Linked DNA regions of Homo sapiens: region 2 is linked to region 1. The links come from fine-mapping of genetic effects on gene expression. A gene starts in region 1. The other region holds a variant in brackets. All regions are shown on one strand. Distances are from middle to middle. Region 1 holds the start of COLGALT1 (collagen beta(1-O)galactosyltransferase 1). Region 2 overlaps COLGALT1 (collagen beta(1-O)galactosyltransferase 1).

Evidence for each region. PIP is the estimated chance that this variant, and not a neighbour inherited with it, causes the effect.
Region 2: its variant is fine-mapped to the expression of COLGALT1 in whole blood (TOPMed, PIP above 0.99).

Annotation. Positions count from the first base shown.
Region 1 is chr19:17,550,944-17,559,267 of GRCh38, reverse strand. It overlaps COLGALT1 (collagen beta(1-O)galactosyltransferase 1), which reads right to left and starts at 3,619. Exons shown (of 12, transcript NM_024656.4): 1 at 3,295-3,619. The coding sequence starts at 3,554. It overlaps NIBAN3 (niban apoptosis regulator 3), which reads right to left. Exons shown (of 15, transcript NM_001321827.2): 15 at 5,628-7,482. The coding sequence ends at 7,370. RefSeq lists a silencer at 3,452-3,541.
Region 2 is chr19:17,577,177-17,585,500 of GRCh38, reverse strand. It overlaps COLGALT1 (collagen beta(1-O)galactosyltransferase 1), which reads right to left. Exons shown (of 12, transcript NM_024656.4): 7 at 8,230-8,306; 8 at 8,034-8,140; 9 at 7,412-7,544; 10 at 5,892-6,019; 11 at 4,596-4,802; 12 at 2,344-4,324. The coding sequence ends at 4,057. Among named protein-coding and RNA genes, the nearest start is that of COLGALT1, 26 kb to the right of the region's middle. RefSeq lists enhancers at 5,267-5,561, 5,396-5,605. The variant G/A (reference allele first, on the strand shown) is at 4,559.

The DNA.
Region 1 (8,324 bases):
CAGGACCAGGCAGCAGTGAGGCAAGTCAAGGACCACCATCCCCAACTGGCCTCCCACCAGCTATGTATCCCTGGACAGGACACTTCTCCCTTTCCTTTGTTTTTTTTTGAGACAGAGTCTCGCTCTGTTGCCCAGGCTGGAGTGCAGTGGCGCGATCTCGGCTCACTGCAAGCTCCGCCTCCCGGGTTCACGCCTTCTCCTGTCTCAGCCTCCCAAGTAGCTGGGACTACAGGCGCCCGCCACCACACCCGGCTAATTTTTTTGTATTTTTAGTAGAGACGGGGTTTCACCATGTTGGCCAGGCTGGTCTCGATCTCCTGACCTCGTGATCCGCCCACCTTGGCCTCCCAAAGTGCTGGACTTAACAAGCGTGAGCCACCGCGCCCGGCCCATTTCTCCCTTTCCATGTCAGTTTCCTCATCTGTAACATGGGGGTGGGAACAGGACCCAGTTTACTGGGAAGTGGAAGGATTAAACAAGCTGATTTTGGAAAGACCCATTAGTGATTGGCTGTTTTATTACTGAGCATCTAAGATCTTGCAAACCACATTCACTAACAAATATGTGTCACTTAATTTTTTTTTTCTTTTGAGACAGAGTCTTGCTCTGTCACCCAGGCTAGAGTGCAGTGGCACAATCTTGGTTCACTGCAATCTCCGCCTACCAGGTCCAAGCAATTCTCCTGCCTCAGCCTCCCGAGTAGCTGGGATTACAGGTGCCCACCACCATGCCCAGCTAATTTTTGCATTTTTAGTAGAGATGGGGTTTCGCCATGTTGGCCAGGCTGCTCTCGAACTCCTGACCTCAGGTGATCCACCTGCCTCAGCCTCCCAAAGTGCTGGGATGACAGGAATGAGCCACCGCACACGGCAATTTTTGTAATGTATAGATCAGGCCAGGCACGGTGGCTCACGCCTGTCATCCCAGCACTTTGAGAGGCCGAGGCGGGTGTATCACCTGAGGTCAGGAGTTTGAGACCAGCCTGGCCAACATGGCGAAACCCCATCTCTACTAAAAATACAAAAATTAGGCCGGGCATGGTGGCTCACGCTTGTAATTCCAGCACTTTGGGAGGCCGAGGCGGGTGAATCACTTGAGGCCAGGAGTTTGAGCCTAGCCTGGCCAACATGGTGAAATCCCATCTCTACTAAAAACACAAAAAATTAGCTGGGTGTGGTGGCGGGCACCTGTAATCCCAGCTACTCAGGAGGCCGAGGCAGGAGAATCGCTTGAACCTGGGAGGAGGAGGTTGCAGTGAGCCGAGATCGTGCCACTGCACTCCAGCCTCAGCAACGAGAGCGAGACTCAGTCTCAAAAAATAAATAAATAAAAAATATTAAAAAATGAAATGTATATATCAGAAACCAGCTGGGTGCAATGGCTCACGCCTGTAATCCCAATATGTTGGGAGGCCGAGGTGGGCAGGTCACTTGAGCTCGGGAGTTCGAGACCAGCCTGGCCAATAGGGCAAAACCCCATCTCTAGAAAAAATACAAAAATTAGCTGGGCGCAGTGGCATACGCCTGTAGTCCCAGTTACTCAAGAAGCTGAGGCAGGAGAATCACTTGAGCCCAGGAGGGGGAAGTTGCAGTGAGCTAGGATTGCACCACTGCACTCCCGCCTGGGCGACAGATGTAAAACCCTGTATCAAAAAAAAAAGTATATCTCAGCAGGGCGCTGTGGCTCATGCCTGTAATCCCAGCACTTAGGGAGGCCGAGGCAGGCAGATCATGAGGTCAGGAGATCAACACAAGCCTGGCCACAATGGTGAAACCCTGACTCTATTAAAAATACAAAAATTAGCCAGGCATGGTGGTGCGCACCTGTAATCCCAAGCTACTCGGGAGGCTGAGGCAGGAGAATCACTTGAACCCGGAGGCGGAGGTTGCAATGAGCTGAGATCGTGTCACTGTACTCCAGCCTGGGCGACAGAGCAAGATTCCGTCTGAGAGAAAAAAAAAAGTATATCTCAAAGTATATCTCATAAATCCCTTACCCTGCCTTCATCTTCTCCTGTGAGCCACACCACTTCAGTGGGCTGCAGTCAATTATTCATTCAACAAACATTTGTTAAGTACCAATTGTGTATTTGGATTATCCAGACTGAGAAATCAGGTGGAAGGAAAAGCGACATTTGGGAGTTTAGTTTGACCGTAGTGCCAAAAGCTAATTCTGCCCAATAAATTAAGTTGACAATAACACCAGCAATGACAGTAATCATGATAATAAAATCACTGAGAGCCAAGCCCATGCCAGACCCAAGGGCTCCACATCCATTAACTGGATAATCTTCAGAGACAAACCCAAAAAGAGAATTATATTAATACGCTCATTTTCTTTTCTTTTTCTTTTTTTAGAGGCAGGTCTTACTCTGTAGCCCAGGCTGGAGTGCAGTGGTGCAATCATAGGTCACTGCAGCCTCGAACTCCTGGGCTCAAGCGATTCTCCTGCGTCAGCCTCCTGAATAGCTGGGACTACAGGCACACACCACCGCACCTGGCTAATTTTTGTATTTTTTTTCTAGAGACGGGGTTTTGCCATGTTGGCAAGGCTGGTGTCGAACTCCTGAGCTCAAGTGACCCGCTTACCTTGGCCTCCCAAATTGCTAGGATTACTGCGTGAGCCACTGCACCCGGACCCATTTTCCATTTGAGAAAACTGAGGCAGGGAGTGAGAAGTCACCAGTCAAAGGTTTCTTCAGAGCTCTGCCCCATTCCCTACCAAGAAAGCATCCACTTCCTCCTGGGCCATCTGGTCCTGGACTCCACCCACGCCGGTCTGAGGGCAGGGGTTTGACTGGGGCCTGGAGCCAGGCTGAGTTCAAGCTTAAGGGCAGCAGCCGGCACAGAAAGGCTTGCTGTTAGATGTGGCCTCTGGCAACGCCCCAGTGGGGGCTCTGGGCTCCGTCCTTTGGAGGTGTACGTGCCCCAGAGGGAGTTAGAGCCCCAGTTAGTGAGGCCGGAGCTGCCCTAGTAGGGTCCAGCAGGCAGAAGCGGTGCCCAGCCCACCCCAAAGGAGCCAGCAGGAGGAACTCGGTCCCGCTTGTGTTGTGGGGAGGGCTGTGTCTGGCCCCATGGGAGGACAGCAGGCAGGGGGCACGCGTGGACCCGTCCCGATGGGGGCAGCGGGCAGGGGCATGCGTAGAACCGTCCCGATGGGGGTAGCGAGCAGGAAGCACGCGCGGACCCGCCCAGAAGAGGACAGCGGGCAGGGGCTCGCGTGGACCCACCCCTATGGGGACAGCAAGCAGGGGCTCGCGTGACCCGCCTGATGGGGACAGCGGGCTCGACTCACCATAGCGCCGTGCGCTCCCGCGGGTGCCGCAGCCGCTCGAGTGCGCCCAGCGTGGTGGGCAACGCGTGGGCCGCGTTTCGCGCCAACAGCGCGATGAGCACGCGCGGCGCCTGCAGGGGCGACTCCGGGCTCCAGCGCTCCTCGGGGAAGTAGGCGTCGGCGCCCGGCGGGGCCCCCGGCGGCAGTGGCGCCAGCAGCAGAAGCAGCAGCGCCAGGAGCGGCTGCCCGCGCCGCCGGCCCGCGCGTGGGGCCGCCGCCATCGCGCCACGCGTCTCCTTTAAGTCGTTTTTCTGCGGGAGGACTCTGGCCGCGCCTTAAAGGGGTCATAGGGGCCCCGCCCGGCCGCGCGCCTTAAAGGGGAGGAGCGCGCCGGGCGTGAAGTCCAGGCCCCGCCTCCAGACGCTCTCCGAGTCCCAAGGCCCGGAGTGACGTCACCTGCAGCCCTACCCAGGACGCCCCGCCCCCGCACCGATCTTAAAGGCACATAGCGCTCGGAGCGCGTGGAAGGGATGTTAGGGGTAGCGTTAGGGTTAGGAACCCGCGCTTCCTCCAGGCGCCTCCTACCACTGAGACCTCCGCCAGATGCGCCGCCCAATTTCCCCATGTATAAAACCCGGGCTGTGCCACCAGGCGGACTTGGCTACTTAGGACCTGGTTTGGGACCCAAGAGACCTTAGCCTCAGTTTCCTCTGCTGCAACGTGGGTTTTGCCATCCTGGTTTTGGATCTCACAGGGATGTCATTGAGGGTTGTGGAGAATAAAGGTCATGACGTCCACAGACCTGGCGTCACATTCAGTCCCCGCCTTGGGCTTGCTATATGTGAGCCTCAGTCTGTCCATCTATAAAATGAGATCATAGAGACCCTATAGGGTTGGCGTGAAAATAGAGCCAGGGCATGATAATGGACCGTTCTGGGCACAAGCTCTTCCAGAGACAAGGGCCATGTTTTCATGGAAACGCTGTCAAGGGATTGTTTTCCAATACTCTAGAGCCGCATTTTCAAATTGATTGACTTAGTATCACACTTTTTTTTTTTTTTTTTTGAGACGGAGTCTGGCTTTGTTGCCCGGGCTGGAGTGCAGTGGTGCAACATAGCAAGACCGTGCCTCTATTTTTAAAAACAATAAAAACTTTAAAAAATACATCTGAACATTATTATTATTATTATTATTATTTTCTTTTTTTTTTTTTTTGAGACAGCGTCTCACTCCATTGCCCCGGCTAGAGTACAGTGGCGCGATCTCGGCTCACTGCAACCTCCGCCTCCCGGGTTCAAGCGATTCTCCTGCTTCAGCCTCCTGAGTAGCTGGGACTACAGGCACGCGCCACCACGCCCGGCTAATTTTTGTTTATAGTAGAGATGGGGTTTCACCATATTGGCCAGGCTGGTCTCGAACTCCTGACCTCCTGATCCGCCCACCTCAGCCTCCCAAAGTGCTGGGATTACAGGCGTGAGCCACCGCGCCCAGCTTATTATTATTTTCACAGAGAGGGTCTTACTCTGTGGCTCAGGCTAGAGTGCAGTGGCATGATCACATGATCATGGCTCACTGCAGCCTCAACCTCCTGGGCTCAACTGATCCTCCTGCCTCAGCCTCCCAAGTAGCTGGGACTACAAGTGCACTCAACCACGCCCAGCTAATTTTTAAATTTTTTGTAGAGATGGAGTCTCGCTATGTTGCCCCGGCTGTTCTCAAACTCCTGGTCTCAAGTAATCCTCCCCCTTCAGCCTCCCAAACTGCTGGGATTACCAGTGAGCCATCATGCCCCGCTAAAACTTAATTTTTAAGAATGATACAGGCCAGGTGCAGTGGCTCACGCCTGTAATCCCAGCATTTTGGGAGGCTGAGGCAGGCGGATCACTTGAGGTCAGGAGTTCGAGACCAGCTTGGTCAATATGGTGAAGCCCCCATCTCTTCTAAAAACACAAAAAATTAGCCGGTCATGGTGGCGCTTCGCCTGTAATCCCAGCTACTACGGAGGCCGAGGCAGGAGAATCACTTGAACCCAGGAGGTGGAGGTTGCAGTGAGCCAAAATCGCACCACTGCATTCCAGCCTGGGTGACAGAGTGAGACACCGTCTCAAAAAAAAAAAAAAAAAGGTAAAAACAAATTTACACTCTGTGGACTTGATGAGGAAAGGTCTTTTCATATTAAGTAAGAAAAAGGAGGTGACAAGATACATCCCATCCCATCTGGAAGGATTTAGACCCAAGGGCAAACAATGTTTTTCTCAAAAGGGGCAGGATGACAAATTCTTGTAGCTGCAATTGTTCCAGAATTAACATCTACATCCCGTCCGGGGTAAAAGGAAGACAGCTAAAGAAGCCTATGAAGTGCAAATGTATTGAGCAAATGTATTTCGGAAGGTGGGGTTGGAGGGAAATAGGTGGAAAGGTCAGGAATATCTCATTGTCTTGGGGTAGGCCGAAAACTCCAGACAGAATGGGAGGAAACGGTCTCCAGGGAGTGTGAAAGTCCCTCTGCAAGCTGAACCAAGAACACACGGGAATCCCTGTGGAACCCACTCCGGAAGCAGCTGCAAGACAGCAGAGAAGCTGCCAATATCCAGTTAGCAGATGACTTTGCTGGCAAGCAGAGGAAGTCGGTAAAAGCTTGTCTCCCAGCCAGGAAACTTGACACCAAGTTAAGATTTGGAGCTAGGAAACAAACCCAAAAGGCTCACAGCAAGCGGAGAAAAAAACCCCAAAATCTGTAACCTGTATCACAAAGCGTTCATATCCTTCAGATATAAAGAGTTATTAGATATCAATAAGAAAAATGCAAACACTCCTGAAAAGTAGAAAAAAGCTATGAACAGGCAATTCACTGAAATTAAAAAAAAAAAAACTACAAACATGTAAATGGCTAATCAACATATTTGGATTTTGTTTTTTGAGACAGGGTCTCACTCCCATCACCCAGGCTGGAGTGCAGTGGTGCAATCACCACTCACTGCAGCCTTGAGTTCCCAGGCTCAGGTAAATCTCCCATCTCAGCCCAGCTTCTTTTAAATTTTATTTATTTATTTATTTATTTATTTATTTATTTATTTATTTTATTTTTTAGTAGAGACAGGTTTCACCACATTGCCCAAGCTGGCCTCAAAACTCCTTGGCTCAAGCAATCCACCTGTCTCAGCCTCCCAAAGTGCTGGGATGACAGGCGTGAGCCACCACTCCCGGCCGCTAATTTTGTATTTTTTGTAGAGATGAGGTCTCACTATGTTCGCCAGGCTGGTCTTGAACTCCTGAGCTCAAGTGATCTGCCCGCCTCAGCCTCCCAAAGTGCTGGGATTACAGGTGTGCACTGCCACGCCTGGCCATAATAAACTTATTTGTAAGTTCAATTTAGTCAAAGAAATTCAAAATAAAATCATGAGATTTCTGTGTGTGTCTAACTGGCATAGCTTTTTTCTTTTCATGAAAAGTCCTAGTGTTTAGAAAGGATTTGGAGGCTGGACATAGTGGATCACTCCTATAATCCTAGCACTTTGGGAGGCCAAGGCAGGAGGATTGCTTGAGTCCAGGAGTTTGAGATCAGCCTGGGCAGCATAGCGAGACCTTGTCTCTATTATTTAAAAAAAAAAAATTAGGCCACGTGTGGTGGCTCACACCTGTAATCCCAGCACTTTGGGAGGCTGAGGGGGGCAGATCACTTAAGGACAGGAGTTCGAGACCAGCCTGGCCAACATGGTGAAACCCCATCTCTACTAAAAACACAAAAATTAACCAGGCATGGTGGCGGGTGCCTGAAATCTCAGCTACTCGGGAGGCTGAGGCAGGAGAATCGCTTGAACCCGGGAGGCGGAGGTTGCAGTGAGCCGAGATCCTGCCACTGCACTCCAGCCCGGGTGACAGAGCAAGACTCAGTCTCAAAAAAAAAAAAAAAATTAAAATAAAGAAAGCCTTGGGGAAAATACACAAATAAATGCTGCTGCTTGGAGTATAAAATGGTACAGTTTTCTGAAGTTGCAGGGGTTACAAAAGCCTAAAGATGGCACATCCGTTTTGGCCCAGAAATTCCACTTGTAGACATTTATCCAATAGAAACAAGATAGATGTGGGTGAAGATTCAGCTCCGGAATGTTCCTGGAGAAGGCGGTGGGCAGAGTGGCTGGATCTGGGCACCAGAGTCTGGCTGCCTGGGACAAGCCCCTCCTTCCCGCTCAGCCTCAGTTTCCTCATCTGTATAATGGAAAATATACGGACGTCAAAAATCAGATGTGTCAGATGCCTGGCATGTAATAAGTGCTTAAAAAATCAGAGTTAATAGAGATGTTGGCTGGGCGCAATGGCTCATGCCTGTAATCCCAGCACTCTGGGAGACCAAGGATCAGGAGTTCAAGACCAGCTTGGCCAACATGGTGAAACCTCATCTTTACTAAAAATACAAAAATTAGCTGGGCATGGTGGTGGGCGCCTGTAATCCCAGCTACTCGGGAGGCTGAGGCATGAGAATCGCTTGAACCCGAGAGGCAGAGGTTGCAGTTAGCCGAGATCGCGCCATTGCACTCCAGCCCGGGTGACAAGAGCGAAACTCCATCTCAAAAAATAAAAATAAAAAAAAAGAAATGTAGGCCGGGTGCAGTGGCTCACGCTTGTAATCCCAGCACTTTGGGAGGCCGAGGCAGGTGGATCACCTGAGGTCAGGAGTTCAAAATCAGCCTGGCCGACATGGTGAAACCCCATGTCTACTAAAAATACAAAAGTAGCCGGGCGTGGTGGTGGACGCCTGTAATCCCAGCTACTGGGGAGGCTGAGGCAGGAGAATTGCTTGAACCCGCAAGGTGGAGGTTACAGTGAGCCAAGATGCTGCCACTGCACTCCAGCCTGGTGACAGAGCGACACTCCATCTCAAAAAATAAATAAATAAATAAATAAAAAGAAAAAGAAATGTATAAGCAGCCAAAAGATGAAAGGGTGAAGGATAGGAGAGAAGGTTCTCAGAAAAGGAGCTAAAAGCAGCTCCTAAACCTCCCGGACAAAGGTGAGGGGCACCAGTGAGGCTACCCTGGTGGACAGCCCTC
Region 2 (8,324 bases), 26 kb before region 1:
AAAAAATCCAGTAGGAAAGATGTATTGTATAATGCTATCCACTGCAGGAAACAGCAGGGAATATTTTCCATAACAATCCAAAAAGAGCTCGTAGATGTTAACCCTATTTTGGAAAGGAGGTCCACAATAGTTGTTAAATTTAAAAATAAAAGTTGTTTTTTAAAAAATAGGTACAGTTTGATCCCATGCTTAGAAAATAAAAGTGCATTCCACGAAAAATAAAACGGCAAGTTGCAGTAGCTTAGGTAACATGGTCCTCCTTTTTTAAAAAATGCATATATATTTACACCATGCAAATAAGGAAGGCTGGAAAGTTTTTGAAAATGTTAGTTGTGTCTGAAAAGGTGTGATTTAATTTTTGCTTTGTCAATTTGCTTAGCTGTAAGTTCTGATTTTTTCCACACTGATTGAACACCATCAGTGTTAGGGTTTTTTGTTGTTGTTTGTTTTTTGTTTTTTGAGACAAGAGTGTTGCTCTGTCGCCCAGGCTGGAGTGCAGTGGCGTGATCTCGGCTCACTACAACCTCCGCCTCCCAGGTTCAAGTGATTCTTCTGCCTCAGCCTCCAAGTAGCTGGGACTACAGGCGCTCACCACCATGCCCAGCTAATTTTTCTGTATTTTTAGTAGAGACGGGGTTTCACCATATTGGCCAGGCTGGTCTCGAACTCCTGACCTCATGATCCACCAGCCTCGGCCTCCCAAAGTGCTGGGATTACAGGTGTGAGCCACCGCGCCTGGCCCCTGTGTTAGTTTATAAAAGTCTCGGGTATATTCTTGCACACCCTAAAGGTGTAATAATCCAGAGGATTTGTAAGCATTTGACCCAGAAAATCCAAATGCAACTGGGCATGTTGTAATGTCCAGCCCCCTCTCCCTGGGGTGGGACCACTCTTTCCCTTCTTGTCTCACTTCCCTACTGCTCCACAGCAAGTTCCTGGGGTCACTGATAACGTAAGTGCCCTTCAATCCTCATCTTGGAGTCTGTTTCAGGGGACCCAAACCATGACAGCCCCTCCTCATTTGAAGTCATCTGCGACGATCCTGTGGTTGATCCAAGATAGAATGAAGTTGGCCACCTGTCCCTGGGCTATTTCAGGGAAGTTTTCTGGTTTTGTTTTATAGAAACAGGGTCTTGCTCTGTTGCCCAGGCTGGAGTGCAGTGGTGTGATCATGGTTCACTGCAGCCTCAACCTCCTAGACTCAAGAGATACTCCTGCTTCAGCCTCCTGAGTAGCCAGATTACAGGTGTGCCCTACCATGCCCAACTAATTTCTCAATTTTTTTTGTAGAGACGAGGGTCTCACTCTGTTGCCCAAGCTGGTCTTGAGCTCCTGACCTCAAGCAATCCTCTCACCTCCTCAACCTCCCAAAGCATTGGGATTATAGGAGTGAGCCACCTCACCCAGCCTAATCCTTTTTTTTTTTTGAGATGGAGTCTCATTCTGTTGCCCAGGCTGGAGTGCAGTGGCAAGATTTCAGCTCACTGCAACCTCCACCTCCTGCGTTCAAGCGATTCTCCTGCCTCAGCCTCCCAAGTAGCTGGGACTACTGTCACACACCACCATGCCTGGCTGCTTTTTGCATTTTTAGTAGAGACGGGATTTCATCTTATTGATCAGGCTGGTCTCGAACTCCTGACCTCAGGTGATCCACCCACCTTGGCCTCCCAAAGTGCTGGGATTACAGGCGTGAACCACCATGCCCAGCCCTAATCCTCATGTTGAGGTCTGTTTTAGGGGGACTCAAAGCACGACAGCCCCTCTTTATTCGAAGTCATGTGGAAGGATCCTGAAGTTGACTCAAGACAGAGCTGTCGGTCCCCCGCCTGTTTGGGGGAAGTTTTATGGCATGAGGGGACACAGGGCTCTTACCACACCCTCACCCCACAGTAGCTCCACTGGCCAGCTTTTTTTTTTTTTTTTTGGTTTGATTGTGTCTTGCTCTGCCGCCCAGGCTGGAGGGCAGTGGCTCAATCTTGGGTCACTGCAACCTCCACCTCCCAGGTTCAAGCGATTCTCCTGCCTCAGCCTCCCAAGTAGCGAGGATTACAGGTACCCCCCCCCCGCCACCCCGCCCCACTACACTAGGCTAATTTTTGTACTTTTAATAGAGAGGGGGTTTCACCATGTTGGCCAGGCTGGTCTTGAATTCCTGACCTCAAGTGATCCGCCCACCTTAGCCTCCCAAAGCACCGGGATTACAGGCATGAGCCACCATGCCAGGCCCCACTGGGCAGCTTCCCTACTGCACCTGCCCTGGTTTCCTCCCAAATCTTGTCGGCCATCCAGGGGTGGGGAACGTGGGCAGTGTTTTGGTGCCGAGCAAAATCCCACAAACTGCTGTGAAAACCAACCAGGAACATTTATTAAAAAACTAAGCAAGTTATCCCCAAGAGGGTGAAGCACCGCTGGCTGGTTCTGACATTCGATTCAGGCTGAAGGCACGGCAACTCCTCCAGCCCTTGCTGGGAAATGTCCTACCCAGGCCACGGGCAGTGCCCCAGTGCAGCTGGGTCCCCTAAAAGCCCCCAAACACATGATCCCACCAAAGGCTTGAACAGAGCAACTTCATCAAGCAGGCAGGGACCACACCTGAGACACAAGGGCAAGGAGGTAAAGCACAGGGGACCGGGAGTGGGCCAGGGACACCCAGCCCCCGTCTCCAACTGGCGCCCCCTCCAGGGGGGCTAACATGTGGCGTGGGGCCACCAGGACCTGTGCTTGCCCCTGGTGGCGGAAGAGCTACCCTCCCTCTTGGGTGGTGGGGGGATGTTGTCTGCACACAGCTCAGACGACCGAGGGTACAGGAAGAATCAAACTCAGTCAACCATTCTTCAACCCAACTGGGAGTCTGTGAGGCCTGGCACACAGGTGCTCAATAAACACTTGTGGCATGAAGAAGTGAAGGAACCGATCTTGTTCATCTCTGTGCCCCAGCACTCGGCATGTAGCCCATGATCGAAAATGCAGACTGAACAACTGTCACACTCTTTTGTATCACTAGTGCCCGGCACACAGTCAGTGCTCTTCAGGTGTGTGGGAAAGAAGCCAATGAGTGAGAAGTTCCCACACCGTCTAGCAGTGAGGAAAAAAAGAAAAAAGTAAAAAGTACCTTGTTTACTCCCATTCCCATCCCATAGCTCAGCTCCCTGCACACAGCAGGTGCTCAGTAAGTGTACCGAATCAGGAACTTATCTTTGTGACATGAGTGCCAGGCACACAGTAGGTGACCAATATGTGCTTGAATAAATGGATAGAAGCATCTTATTTATCTCAATATTCCCAGAGCCTGGGCTGGGCACAGTGGCTCATGCCTGTAACCCTAGCACTTTGGGTGGCCAAGGCGGGCAGATCACTTGAGGTCAGGAGTTCGAGACCAGCCTGGCCAACATGGTGAAACCCCGTCTCTACTAAAAATACAAAAACTAGCCAGATGTGATGGCACGCACCTATAGTCCCAGCTACTTGGGAGGCCGAGAAACAAGAATTGCTGGACGCTGGGAGGCGCAGGCTGCAGTGAGCCGTCACACCACTGCACTCCAGCCTGGGTGACAGAGACAGACTCTACTCTTAAAAAAAAAAAAAAAAAAATCCCAGAGCCTGGAATGGCACCCAACACACAGTAGGCACTCAATAAATCCTTGAATGAATTTTAAAAATGAATGTGTATCACTAGTGCCTGATTCTTAATCTGATCAGTAACTGCTTGATGACTGAATCAATCGCTGATGGAGGGAACAATTATGCCTCATTCACTGCCGTAACATGGGAACCTTGCATACAGCAGGTGCTTAATAAATGCTGGGCACATGAACAGATGAAGAGGGCTTGGTTCCTCCCAATTCCCCAGGGCCAAGCCCTGTTGCTGGCATGCAGTAGGCACTCCATTAATGCTGCCTGTGTGCACGTGATTGCTTAGCAAGAGCTGGCTGGACACCACCCCACACGAGAGCCCTCTGTGGCCTGCCAAGGGGTCCAGAGGTGGACCTGATGTCCTCAGTAAGCACGTGGAGCCTGGGCCACCGATGGCTGCTTTGGCTTTCTGGCTGCTACCCCTCAGAGTTCATCCCGGGCAGCACTGTCCAGTGGGGACTGGAGCACGTCCGAGTTCTTGGCCTCACGGCTCAGTGCCTGCTGCTCCCGCATCTTCTGGGACTTGGCGCGGTCCCAGTCGGTCTTGACGTGCTCATTGTTCCATACGACTGAGGTCTCGGTGTCACTCACATAGCCATCGTCTCCTGTGTAGTGTGTGGGGTAGATGAGCAGCGGCTCCACAGAGAAGGCATGCAGGTTGCGGAGGGAGAAGTGGGCCTTGTACTCGGACCTGGGGGGAGGAGGAGGGGAGTGAGGGGCAGCAATGGCTTCAGGGGACGGGACAGCTGGAGGAAAAATTGGGGGTGAAGAAGTCAGCGGGGACAGATTAAAACGTAAGTGTGCAGGGGATACAAATGGAGACAGATCTGCGAGGGGGCAAACGGAGGGAGAAGTAGGCAAAAGAAGAGACATCTTCTCGGAGGCCGTGAGTCTCACATCCCCATTCTCCCAGGACAGACCCACC[G/A]TGAAACCCCAGCCCAGCAGCCGCCTGCCCCTCTCACACTGGGTGTTTGTCGAACATGACGGGCAGGAACTCGTCCACAGGCAGCATCTTGGAGAGCGGCTCAGCAGCCAGCAGTTTGCGGGCGCCTTGCAGGGAGATCACGTAGGCCAGGGTCCAGTAGGAATAGTCGGCCTCCACCAGGTTCCTCACGCGAGGCACAGCCTTCTCGGGGTGCTCCACCTGCATCCGCTTCCGGCCCACATAGCTGGGGTGCAAGATCGGGCCTGTCACTCTCCTCCCGCCCTCCGGAGGGAGCTTGCCCAGAAAGCCAGGGATCTAGTTACCCCGTCAGGTCCTGGGATGGGAGCAGGCTCAGCATGTTTGCAGAGCTCTGTGACTGGATGGAGTGAATGCAGGAGCCCAGGGGTCTGGCGGTCATGGGGGAGAAGAGTGAGTTTTTCCAAAGGGCGTGAGGGAGCCATGGAGGATCTGGAGCTGGGGAGAGCAGGATCACGCAGACGTTCTCTGAGGCTGAAGCTGCTCTGAGTTCAGAGGACAGTGGGGGTGGAGGTGGGCGAGGTGCCCTGATGGGGGGGCAGTCAGGAATGGAGGGGTGCAGTTACTATTCACATGGGGCAGTGTTCCCAGAATGCAGATTAGGGCACTGCACATGGAAGGGAAAAAAGAGATGGAGGAAGGGAGAGGACAAACCAGCCCACTTACAGAAGAGAAGGACGGCTCCAGTGCTGGAAACATGTTGGTGGCACTCCCATCCAGGGGCTTGTCTAAGACCAGGCGCCCTGGCCACGCCCCCACACTCTTCGGCCACACCTCCAGCTCTGACCACACCCCCATGCTCTTCAGCCACGCCCACAGGCTGCCCGGTCAAATTTTAGCCACATCCACCTCCACAGGCCTCAGTCAAGTCTCTAAGCCTTGACCAAGCCTGCAGGCTTCCGGCCAGGTCCCTTGAGTTCTGGGTGATCCTTCCAACGCCCTTCCCTATAGGCTACAGCCCTGACAGTGCCTTCAGGCCCAGGAACCACGTGAGCCCTCCTGCTACGCTTCCAAGGGTTGGCCACGCCTGCCACCCTGACCACACCCAGACATACAGGCTCTAGGCTCAGCTGCAGCGCTGTGGCCACGCCCGTAGGATTCAGCTCCACTCCGCCTCCCAGCCCCACCTCTAAGCCCTGGCCATGTACCTAGGCTCCAGTTCCACCCCACCTTCAAGCCCCGCCTCTAAGCCATGACCCATCCCCAGGTCCCAGCTCCACCCTGCCCCCACCCCCACCTCTAAGTCCTGGCCTTGCCCCAGGCCCCAGCTTCACCCCATCCTCAGACCCCCACTCACATGAGGTCCCAGTCCAGGCCCTCCCGCTCCACATCCCGCATGAGGTTCATCAGACGTCTCTTGAAGAAGATCTCAAAACGCAGGTCATCCTCAAACACAAGCGATTTCTGCAGCCCCCGGTCCACCACCTGAGGGAGGAAGCCCCGCCACATCACAGGGAGGCCAAGGCCAGGCCTGACCCTAAAGCACAGAGCTTTGCTTTGAGAAGGTTTGAAAGACCCGTAGAGAAGCCAGTGCATCTCCCTGCCTCTCCTAGCTCCAGGGACATCTGGACATCCAAACCTCTGCCCTCTGCCGTCCATAATGGATCTCAGAAGAGAAAGGCCTCCCAGCCCCTCAAATGCCCACGCCTCATGCACCTCCCGCCTTGCAGCCGCACACCCCCATTTGGCTTCACATTCGATAACAAGTTTTTCTTTTCTTTTTCTTTTTTTTTTTTTTTGAGACGGAGTCTCGCCCTGTCGCCCAGGCTGGAGTGCAGTGGAACGATCTCAACTGCAACCTCCGCCTCCCAGGTTCAAGTAATTCTGCCTCAGCCTCCTGAGCAGCTGGGATTACAGGCATGTGCCACTACGCCCGGATTTTATTTTTCTTTTTTTGAGATGGAGTGTCACTCTTGTCGCCCAGGCTGGAGTGCAATGGCATGATTTCAGCCCACTGCAACCTCTGCCTCCTGGGTTCAAGTGATTCTCCTGCCTCAGTCTCCCAAGTAGAGGGATTACAGGTGCCCACCACCACACCCAGATAATTTTTGTATTTTTAGTAGAGTCTAGGTTTCACCATGTTGGCCAGGCTGGTCTTGAACTCCTGACCTAAGGTGATCCGCCTGCCTCGGCCTCCCAAAGTGCTGAGATTACAGGCATGAGCCACCACGCCCAGCCATTTTTCTTTTTTCTGAGACACGGTTTTGCTCTGCTGTCCAGTCTGCAGTGCAGTGGCACGATCTTGGCTGACTGCAGCCTTAACTCCTGGGCTCAAGCCACTCTCCCACTTTAGCCTCCCAAATAGTTGGGACCACAGGTGTGCGCCACCATGCCCGGCCCTGATGGCCCAAGTTCGAAGCCTAGTCAGACACCCTCCTCCAATCACAGCCTCTCCCTCTGAGGGTGGATGAGGATGCCTGGGCTGGTGAGTGCCCCCAGCAGCACTGGGCAGGTGCTGGTTTAAAGTGGCTCTGTGGCCATGACTTCTAGTACTAAACATCAAGCACAGAGACCAGGCTGGGAGTAATGAGGATTTGTTTACAGGTCCCAGGCCCCAGACACCACCTGCTGCTCAAAAGGGCTCACCCCTACCCCCAGGCTCAGTTTCCACATTTGCGCAATGGAAGGATGGCAGGTACACCTGGGGGTGATACAGCTGGTGTGGCGCATCATTCACTAAAGAGAGGCCATGGGTCCCATGGCTGAGGCTGGATGCCTAGCCGGGGCTTTGGGGAACTCTTTCAACCCCTTTCCCGTCCAAATCTCCGATGAGATCTAGAGTCATAACTCTGGCCCCGCCCATCACTCAGGACACACCTCCTTCCAGATGTTGTAGTGGCTCAGGAAGCAGCCCAGCTCACCCTTGGTGAGGGGCCGGCCGTGGTAGGGGTCCCGGTAGCCAGGCAGCATCTGGATCCCCAGCGCCTCCACCTGGCTGGTGTTCATGGCTCTGGAGAGGAGGAGGAGAGGGTCACGAAGAAGGTTCACCCTGCCTGCCATTCTGCCATCCCCGGCCATTCCACCACCCCCTGCGGCGTTGAGCAGCTGGTCCACCTCTTGTAGCACTGGCACCCCTTCCGGGCACATGGGGCCTCACTCACCTGCACATGGTATACACTCGCGGGCAAACCTGCTCTCCTCCTCTCCTGGGGTCTGACTGACTTACCCCTCCACAGTCCCCACCAGTCTACACTGGCAGCATGCAAACCTACCCATTCCCCTGGGTCAGGACTCACTTGCCTTCCATGGTCTACAACTGTGAGGATCTGCCCCTTCCCCAGGGTCCCATTCACTTCCCCTTCAGGACGCCCACTGACGAGGTCTACATCTGTTTGGACACCACGCCCGCCCCCATCTGAATCACTTGCCGTCTACCAGCGAGGTCTACACCCACATCCACGTGCGGACCCGCCCCCCCACCCCCAGGCCTCGGACTCACTTGCCGTCCACGGCCTCCACCAGCCGGCACTCGATCTCCTGTGCCTGCAGCGCCCGCAGCATGCGCTCCCGCCGGTCCTGCCGCCGCCTCAGGTTGATCATGAAGACCTGCAGCCCGGAGAGTCCCCAGCCAGATCAGCCCCTGCAAACAAGGGCCCTCCAGCCCCCGCCCCGCCTCCAGGGAAGGCCCAGCTCACCTCGTCGAAGCCCATCTTGTCCGGTGTCTTGGTGGGAGCCGAGATGAAGCGGGAGGGCTCTGCGGGCGGGTGCTTCACTGTGGGGCACAGACGTT